Linked DNA regions of Homo sapiens: region 1 is linked to region 2. Evidence: fine-mapped expression QTL. A gene starts in region 2. The other region holds a variant in brackets. All regions are shown on one strand. Distances are between the middles of the regions.

Region 1 (4,405 bases), 47 kb after region 2:
TGGCAAGTACTGCCCGGCTACCACTGATGTTCACTCAAGGCCCAAGGGCTCTTCAATCAGTTTGTGGTGAATACTGCCAGGCCTGGGTCTCTCCATTTAGGGTAAGGGGCGCCCCTCTGACCCAAGGTGGGTCCAGAAATGCCATCCAGGAACCAAGGTCTAGAATTGGGAACCACAAGGCCCTGCTTGGTGTTCTACCCCACTGTGGCCAAACTGGTTCCCAAGCTGCAAGACAAAGTCTCCTTTACTCTTCCCTTTCCTTTCCTTAAGCAAAAGTCTCTCCCTATGGCCACCACAGCTAGGAATGTGCTGGGTCATACCTGAAGCCAGCACAGCTCTGGGTCTCAACCCAAGGCCCACAGCAAGTACTGCTTGGCTACTGTTGATGTTTATTCAAGGCTCAAGCATGCTTTAGTCAGTAGGTGATGAATACTGCCAGGACTGAGTCCTTCCCTTCAAAGCAGTAGATTCCCTTCTGGCCCAGGGCGTGTCTAGAAATGCCCAGAAGCTAGGGCCTGAAATGGAGGCCTCATGACTCTGCCTGATGCCCTGTTCTACTGTGGGTGAGCTGCTTTCCAACTGAGTTGCTTTCCAAGTTTATGCTCCCCTCTTCTCTACTCAAGCAGAAAGGAGGAGTCTTTCCTGGAGTTGTGCTGCCTGAGATTGGGGGAGGGGTGCCACAAGCACTCCCCTGGTCACCCCAGCTGGTGTCTCACTAGGTCATGTGCACTACATGTCCACTGGCTCCAAGCCCAGCACAGCACAGGACTTGCCCAGGACCCTCAGTGTTTGTGGCCTAAACTGCCTTTCAAATTTATTTCGAACCCTAGATCACTTTAGCCTGTGGTGTTGAGACTAGTCAGAGCTCAGATTCTGCCCACTGGGATGGATGATTTCTCTCTGGCAAGAGCTGGTCTAAATGCTCCCTTCTGTGGTCCTGGCTGAATTCTGCCCTGTGTTGCTTTCTACTGTGACAAGTAGCACTGAGTTACAATGCAAAGTGCCACAGTCACTGTCTACTTCTTTTCCTAAGCACACAGATTCTCTCTCTGCACGAGCAGCCACTGCTGGGAGATGGGGGAAGAGACCAGGTTGGCAATTCAAGACTATTTTTCCTACCCTCTTCAGTGTCTCTTTCCTTGCTATGATGTTAAAACCAAGTACTGTAATTGCTCACCGGATTTTTGGTTCTTATTAAGGTGCTTTCTAGTGTAGACAGTTGTTTAATTTGGTGTTCCTGTGGTGGTGGGGGCTGATAGCTGGAGGGTTCTATTTGGCCATCTTGCTCCACCTCCTCTCTCCATTGGGTTTTTATAGCTTTTCTTTGTTGAGAACATCTATCTTTATATTCATTTCAAGAATGTTTATGACCACCTCATGAAGCATAGCTGCTTTAAGGTCTTCATCTGATAATTTCAACATCTTGGTTATCTTAGTGTTGGCATCCATTGTCTTTTCCCTTGAAAACTGGGGAATTGGTCAAATTCCTTCTTTTGTATATCAAGTAATTCCTGGTTTTTCATATATCAAGTAATTCTGAATTGTGTCTTGGACATTTTGAATATTATGTTGTGAGCCTCTGGGTCCTGTTAAAATTCTCTGGTGCATTTTTTAAAAGCAGGCAACCATCTTGATTAGATTGAACCAGTTCTCTCTTACTTTCTGTGGGAAGCCATTCCAATATTGGTTCAGTTTTCAAAGCTTCTGTTATGCTGTTTTGGGTCTGTATTCAGCCTGGGACTTGGTTGTGGTTTATGCCTTAGTTTAGCTGTCAACGCCTTTGCCATCTGTTTTGTATCTGGTTCTGTGCATGCACAATTCAGAGGTGAGCCTGGAATTTGTGTCACTTCATACACAGAACTAGGAAATAACTCTTTTCCAGCTGTCACCTCTCTGGGATTTCTCCATACTCTCGAGCCGCCAAGGGTCCTTTTTCCTGGTGTTCTAGCTAGAATGATGGAGCTTATTAATGACACCTGTGCTGTAATTGCAGTTCTGTGAGACTGCAGTTGCCCAATCTCTCCAAGAAAGTTAGAGATAAGAAAGAGAAAAATGTAATTCCAATTCTCCCCTCTGCCCACCTTTCCTGATTTCTCTGGCTGGAAGGCTAAATTTTCTCTTGGGGTTTTAGGTGCCCATGCTGTCACTGCCAAAGTACTGCACCTTGACTAGGGGCCCCACCCTCAGGGCAGGGCCAGGGAAGAAAAAATAGACAATACAAAAAAAAAAAAAAAGCACCTTAAGGATTTTAGAAACAGACAACCAGATTGCTATTGGTATATGACTGAATGTGTTCAGTTTGCTTTGTGGTCGGGAACAAACTACTCAGCCTCCCCCTGCATTTCAGATGCCTTTGTTATAGGGACTGGGGAATGACATAAGAACAGATGGAATTAGAGGGTCCTGTGAAGAAAGACTTTAAATAATTAGAATATTATCTGTAGTGTAACGTATTTTCTTTCAAAAGCAGAAAAATGATGGAAAAGTACATGACAATGAAAATAGGACTTTTTAAGAAAAGCTACACAAAGATAAAAACTTATCTTGACAAATAATGCTGATATTTTAAGAAAACTTTGTGGAACCCTAACATTGCTTCAGGAATTTGGACTCATAGCTGGCTGTGGCACAGTGAGACTGCTAGTACATCAAACTTGGGAAATGGGAGTTGTAGAGCAGGTAAGGGTTCCAATCTGGAGAT[T/C]TGGAAAAAGCTAATATGTAATAAAATATTATCTAAAAGAAAATAAGATTTTTTTGATCCCTGTTAACCCATGTCAGCATTTGGCTCTCTCTTACACCAGAAGACAAGAGCAATAATGGAACAAGAATGGTCAAAGATATTTCCCAACTCCAGAAATTAGCAGTTTAAACTAAAAGCCGCTTCAAAATATAAGGCCTATTAAGCTAAAGAGGAAGAAAAAAATTATTAGGTACAAAGTTACAGGTCCAGGATAAAATAAAATTTAAAAAAGCATCTGAATATTCAGTATTTATTTTCCTAACAATTACTAAACACACCAGCAATGTTCCACACACGAGCAGGAAAATCAACTCACTGAAAATAAAGAACCACCGTTTTCTACAATATTGGTTCGCTAATTAAGTTTTTCTACCCACAATTTCTAGGTCAAGAACCCAGTATGGAAGGGAGAAGTGAAAAGTTGAAGAAAAATCCACACATTGCATGAAATACAATGTGAAAGCTCCTTTGTATATCTTGGTAATTTATATTTTCAAAACGAAGTTCTTACTTTTAAAGAGAATTACCTATATTCTCCTGATACTGATTACCAAGTCATTCACCTGAACACCAGAATTAGAATTAAACATTGTACCATACAATTTCATTATCTTATCAGAATGAAACCAATTCACAGGGAAACTAGAGACTACGGCTGTGGTGGTAACCTGCAGATATACACATTCCCATGCACTGACATAAGTTGAAAACACATAGTACTTTCTAGATGGAATTTTTTTCTTTAGGCCTCAATGAAATACATTTCCCCTATATAATTCCAACAGCAGTTTCTCTAGTTCTAAATTTTACCAATTCCCAAAAAACCTAAGTTTTGCTGAAATCTGATTTGACCAATTTATCAAATATGTCATTTTAATTACCTAGCTGGAAGTTAGAGACATGAAATGTACTAGAGGAGCCCTTTTCCAATGGAAATATTATATACCACATTTTTTGTTAATGGAAATAAATGTCTTCATTCCCATGTTTTTCCCTGGTGTCATCTTTTTGCCACTCAAAATCAGCCCATTATTTCCTTACAAAGATGGTGAAAGGCTGTATCATCATCTTGTCGTAAGTACGATGAGCCTGATTATAAGTACCTGGAGTTCTTAAAAATATGGAACCATCAGCCCCAGACTGCATCTACTGAATCAAAATAACAGGGATATTTTTTCATAATTTTTTTCTTCAAAAGCAAACTTCTAAATTGATTTTGATGGTTATCAATTTGGGAATCACACAATCAACTAAGAATGAAAAGATATGGTCTATATTCTACAGGGGAAAGACTATGTGAGACAGAGGGAGAAAACAGCCATTGACAACTCAAGGAGAGAGGCCTCGGGGGGAAAAAAAGATCAACCTGGCCAAAACCTTGAAAATCCGGCTTCTTGACTTGTGAGAAAATAAATTTGTGTTCCTTAATCCACATGGTCTGTGGTATTTGTAATGACAATCCTACCGAACTAATTCAGTGAGCTTCCTGGGATGCCTGAAAATATGAAGAGTTCTCTCAGACTTACTGAATTATAATTTTGGGGGTGGGGGGGCGGCGCTGAGGCTGGTCCAGAAATCTGCCTTTTAAGCATACAACACAGGTAATTGCTATACATAACAAATTTGAGAACCAGTTCTTTAAGATCTACTATAATATGAAGATAA
Region 2 (4,405 bases):
TGCCCTATGTCCAAACATATTTTCTACTATATTTCCTTACCTACAAATTTATTCTTCACTGCCTAAGACTTGAGGTATCTGTAAGAGGATTTCCATTGTAATGGTGCAGTGGTGCAATGACACTAGTCATTGCAGACAGGACTAACTTGTTAATATTGTTTAAGCAAGATTTTTGCATTTTGTAGTCTTTTTCAGGGAGATATAATTTGATTCTTGGTATATTAAGAATGAATTTGACGAACAAATCAGCAGACCAAAGTAACTTACTGTGTCTGATTAGCTGTTTTTAAATTGTTGCTTATATTTTAAAGGCAAAAAAAAAACTAAGTGCTTATTTAACAACAACAAAAAATCCCCTTTACATTTTTTTAGAGGTATTATTTTCTCTCACCTATGAAACTTTCTGACCATAAAGTCAGTGCGTAATCACTGATGATTCCCAGCATTCTTTCTTTATCCTTGCTTCTTTTCATTTTTCAATTCTTAATCCCTCCTTTCACTTCCCCCCTGTATTACAACAACTAACAGCTGCCAAGAAAGTGGATTAGGTCATATATTCAATCAGGAGGTTTTCCTGTTATTCAAGTCACTTTCTTAGTATACCGAAACTAAAAAATAGTTATGGTTTTTGCCTCAAAAAATTCAGTTGGACTTATATTTTATTATTTGAAGGTTGGGTAGCAAGAAGCAGGTCTAAACTTACAAAAGCAAAGCAGTCATTTTGGATCTTCAACTCCCTATTTCTGTCTTGAGCTGTTTTCATTTTGATAATACATCTGAACACTCTTCTCTAACTTACTGATAATCAGTCCGTATTGTTCTACCTCACTTTGTAGACAATTTGTCATCCCATATCTACAGCTGCAGGATCAGTGGGACCCATACTGGTGGAGAAAACCATGCAGTCTCTCCATTAGGAAAGGAGAATCAGACTGAAGACTCCTGACTTGCTTTGATTTCTAATAATAGGCTGGTCTCACTGGGCCCAGGCTGTTCTAAATCTAGAGTAGTTCTGAAATACTGAGTGTGAAATAGGCAATGGTAGAAATTCTTAGGACCCCTGTAAGACAAATCAAAATTCCTTCTAGTATTCTTTTCTCCCATCATTTCCTGCACTGTGCTACGCCAAATCCAATCTCTTAAGGACCATTTCCTACATGCAACCATTGAGTGCACTTTGGCCCCAGTATAGCTTTATAAATCTCACTAGATAACTGTGGGAAGTCCATCCATGAATCATAGTATCAATGGTCTGCAGCTCAGAAAGCACAAAAGAACAAAATAAAAGTTTGAAAACTTACAGCTTTCTCTGCCAGATATTTTTTTGCCAAATATCTTAGACTCCTTTGTGTTGCTGTAACAGAATGCCACAGACTGGTAATTTATAATGAACAGAAATGTATTTCGCTCATGGTTCTGGAGTCTGGAAGTCAAAGAACATGGCCAGCATCTGATGAGGACCTTCATGCAGCATCATTCCATGGCAGAAGATAGAAGAGCAAGAGAGGATGATAGCATGTGAGAAAGTGCCAAACTTGATTTTATAAAAAACCCACTTCCAGGCCAGGTGCAATGGCTCACACATGTAATCCCAGCACTTTGGGAGGCCACAGCAGGAGAATCGCTTGAGCCCAAGAGTTTGAGACCAACCTGGGCAACATAGGGAGATACTGTCTATACAAAAAATGAAAAAGTTAGCTAGGAGTGGTGGCGCGTGCCTTGTAGTCCCAGCTACTTAGGAGGCTGATGTGTGAGGATTGTTTGAGCCTGAGAGGTCAAGGCTGCAGTGAGCTGTGATTGCACCAGTGTATTCCAGCCTGGGCAACAGAGCAAGACCCTGCCTCTGAAAAAAGAGAAAGAAACCCACTCCCACAGCATTAATTAATTCATTCATTCATGAGGGCAGAGGCCTCATGACTTAATCACCTTCTAAAAGTCCCATTTCTAAACACTGTTGCATTGGGGATTAAGTTTCTAACACATAAGTTTTGGAGGACACATTCAAAACATAGCACTAAATATTCATTGGGAACTCATGTACTTGGAATATCTACTGGCAAAAAAAAAAAAAAAAGAAAGAAAGAAAAAAGAAAAAAATTCCATATTCCGTGTTCCCATAATTGTGGTTTATATTTAGTGAAGCATCAAATGAGCATGAGATACAACTATTTTTTTTATTTACACAAAACTTGACCCTAAAATATTTAACCAACAGAAGTAGTACTAATAAAATTATTCTATGAAGTAATTTTTAATGAAGCTGAGTTTATTCAAGTCATGTCTTCTGCAAATAAAAATGGACACCAATAAACAAAAACAAAGATAGAAAGAATAACTGTGTTCTTGATATCTCCCCTAAAGTTCACAATCTCTACACCTGTTTCTTTCATCTTCTGGTGATGTTAATCTTCTGTTTATTTTGCGCTTTAAATCTAAGCACATGTGGATTACCCAGAGATTGCCCTCTGAAAGTCAGTCTACACCTGTTCTTTCTTACCTCACAAAAAGTAATGGAAAAAAAAGTGTGTGTGTGTGTGTGTGCGTCTGTGTGTGTGTGTGTCCTGTTGGTGGTAGTGTTGGTGGTTAAAAAGCAATTTGGGACTTCCTCTTTGAACAGTTGCCTTTTCCTCTCACAGAAGGAAGATTTCATTTTGTTTGAGACGAGAAACCAAACCACACACCAAAGAGAGGGGTATGATGGCTAAGAAGCCCCCAAAACCAGCCCCTCGCAGGATCTTCCAGGAAAGGTTAAAGATTACTGCTCTACCTTTGTACTTTGAAGGTTTTTTATTAATCAAGCGGTCAGGATACCGGGTGAGTCTATAGATGATAATGTTAAACCTAAGACTTCTGTTTTAATTTAATATTTATTTCATGGTGATGTGATGTGTTAAGACCTCCTTGTTTCTGTTGAAATTAAATCATCTTCTCTTCTTTGAGCTCAGAAAAATGATTCCAATTTTTCATAATTTAAATACAATGTCTGGCTTAAACCTGTATGTATACACATATATAATATGTATAATAACAGAGGTTGTAATATTAAGGCACTAATATAAAAAAGTCAATAAGCTAAATTTCCAAAGAATTTATTTAAATATCACAAAAGATTTTGGCTTGGGAGATAAAATGTTTCTTGTATTTTCTCCACAATTTATTGCTATGCTTCAATGATGACATGTACCATTAAGATAAAATGATATCATGATTAAAATTAAACCTGCTCCTGTTCTGAGTCATTTGAAGTTTATAATGATCAAATTATTAAAAATGGCTTTTGTAAAAATTGTTAAAATGACAAAGTTCATACTGTTTAACATTATATATAGTTATGTGTTCTAAAATACTATTCAAGATAGTGACTTTTAATTTTTGGGGTACTACTGTGGGTATTAAGTACACTAAGCTACATAAATACCTTTGCTCTAAGAAAATCCATGAAGCATTCTGTATTTTTAAATGTAATAATTAAAACTTATAGTTAGTTAAAATCATTACTTTTAAAACAGTAATTATGGATGACTTGAAATTAATTAGAGAAATAAGCCCAAAATTGCCTGTTATTAAATAAAAAAATCATTAAGTTAGGTCAAATTTTATGAAATTGTATACTGACTAAAACTAGAAAAATTTTAAGGTTTTCAGAAATTCCATCAGAAATGTTTAATGATGCTAAAATATATTTTCTGAGGATTTATGAATACTTGTGGAAAAATTATATATATGAAAAATCTATAATAGCATATTCACATTTCTTACATATATAATCAGATCATTTACTATTTGAGAGTAAAGACATGGTAATTTGTATTCTGTTATGGATGTTAAACATGCATAAATAATTACCTTTCAGTTATATTAGAATTTTTTAGATTGATCCTATATGCTTTTAATGTAAATTCAATCTTGTCACCACAGGTAAGCCACATAGTCACACTTTGCCAGGAAAGGGAAGTTGAGAAAAAAAAATTCTAATTAGTAATTTAAATCAGGTTGTTCATTGAATGTTTTCCAAGGTATTTATAATAACTGTTTATGATAGCAGTTTTTTTTAAATGCTTAAAGAAGACATGTCATTGGTATGGTTAGCAGAAAGAATAAGAATTTTAGAGTGTCCTTTATCTGATGGTTTTGCCACTTATAGCTTGTGATCTTGTGCAAGTTACTCAATCTCCTTGAGACTGTTTCAACTATAAGATAGAGAGTATACTACTTGCTACTTGCCTCCTAAGGTACATTCTAGGATTCAGTAGGTGTTCAATCAATTTATTCACTCAACATTTATTGTGTGCCTCCTATGCACCAAGCATCACTCATTTCTGGAGAATATGGAAAAAAACACAAAGATTTTATTTTCAAGAGGCTTAATATAGTAGGAATGATGTCTTCCTTACCAAATTTCTAC

Direction of the effects. Positions count from the first base shown, and alleles are read on the strand shown. Sizes are in standard deviations (SD) of each study's normalised expression.
As copies of C replace T in region 1, the expression in B cells of the gene that starts at base 2,612 in region 2 goes up (moderate effect, 0.60 SD a copy in Fairfax 2012).

The links. PIP is the estimated chance that this variant, and not a neighbour inherited with it, causes the effect. A credible set is the group of variants that fine-mapping cannot tell apart.
Region 1: its variant is the best candidate, but not a certain one, in a credible set for the expression of STAP1 in B cells (Fairfax 2012, PIP 0.57).

Annotation. Positions count from the first base shown.
Region 1 is chr4:67,603,170-67,607,574 of GRCh38, forward strand. It overlaps STAP1 (signal transducing adaptor family member 1), which reads left to right. Exons shown (of 9, transcript NM_012108.4): 9 at 3,127-4,168. The coding sequence ends at 3,188. Among named protein-coding and RNA genes, the nearest start is that of STAP1, 47 kb to the left of the region's middle. The variant T/C (reference allele first, on the strand shown) is at 2,702.
Region 2 is chr4:67,556,116-67,560,520 of GRCh38, forward strand. It overlaps STAP1 (signal transducing adaptor family member 1), which reads left to right and starts at 2,612. Exons shown (of 9, transcript NM_012108.4): 1 at 2,612-2,814. The coding sequence starts at 2,695.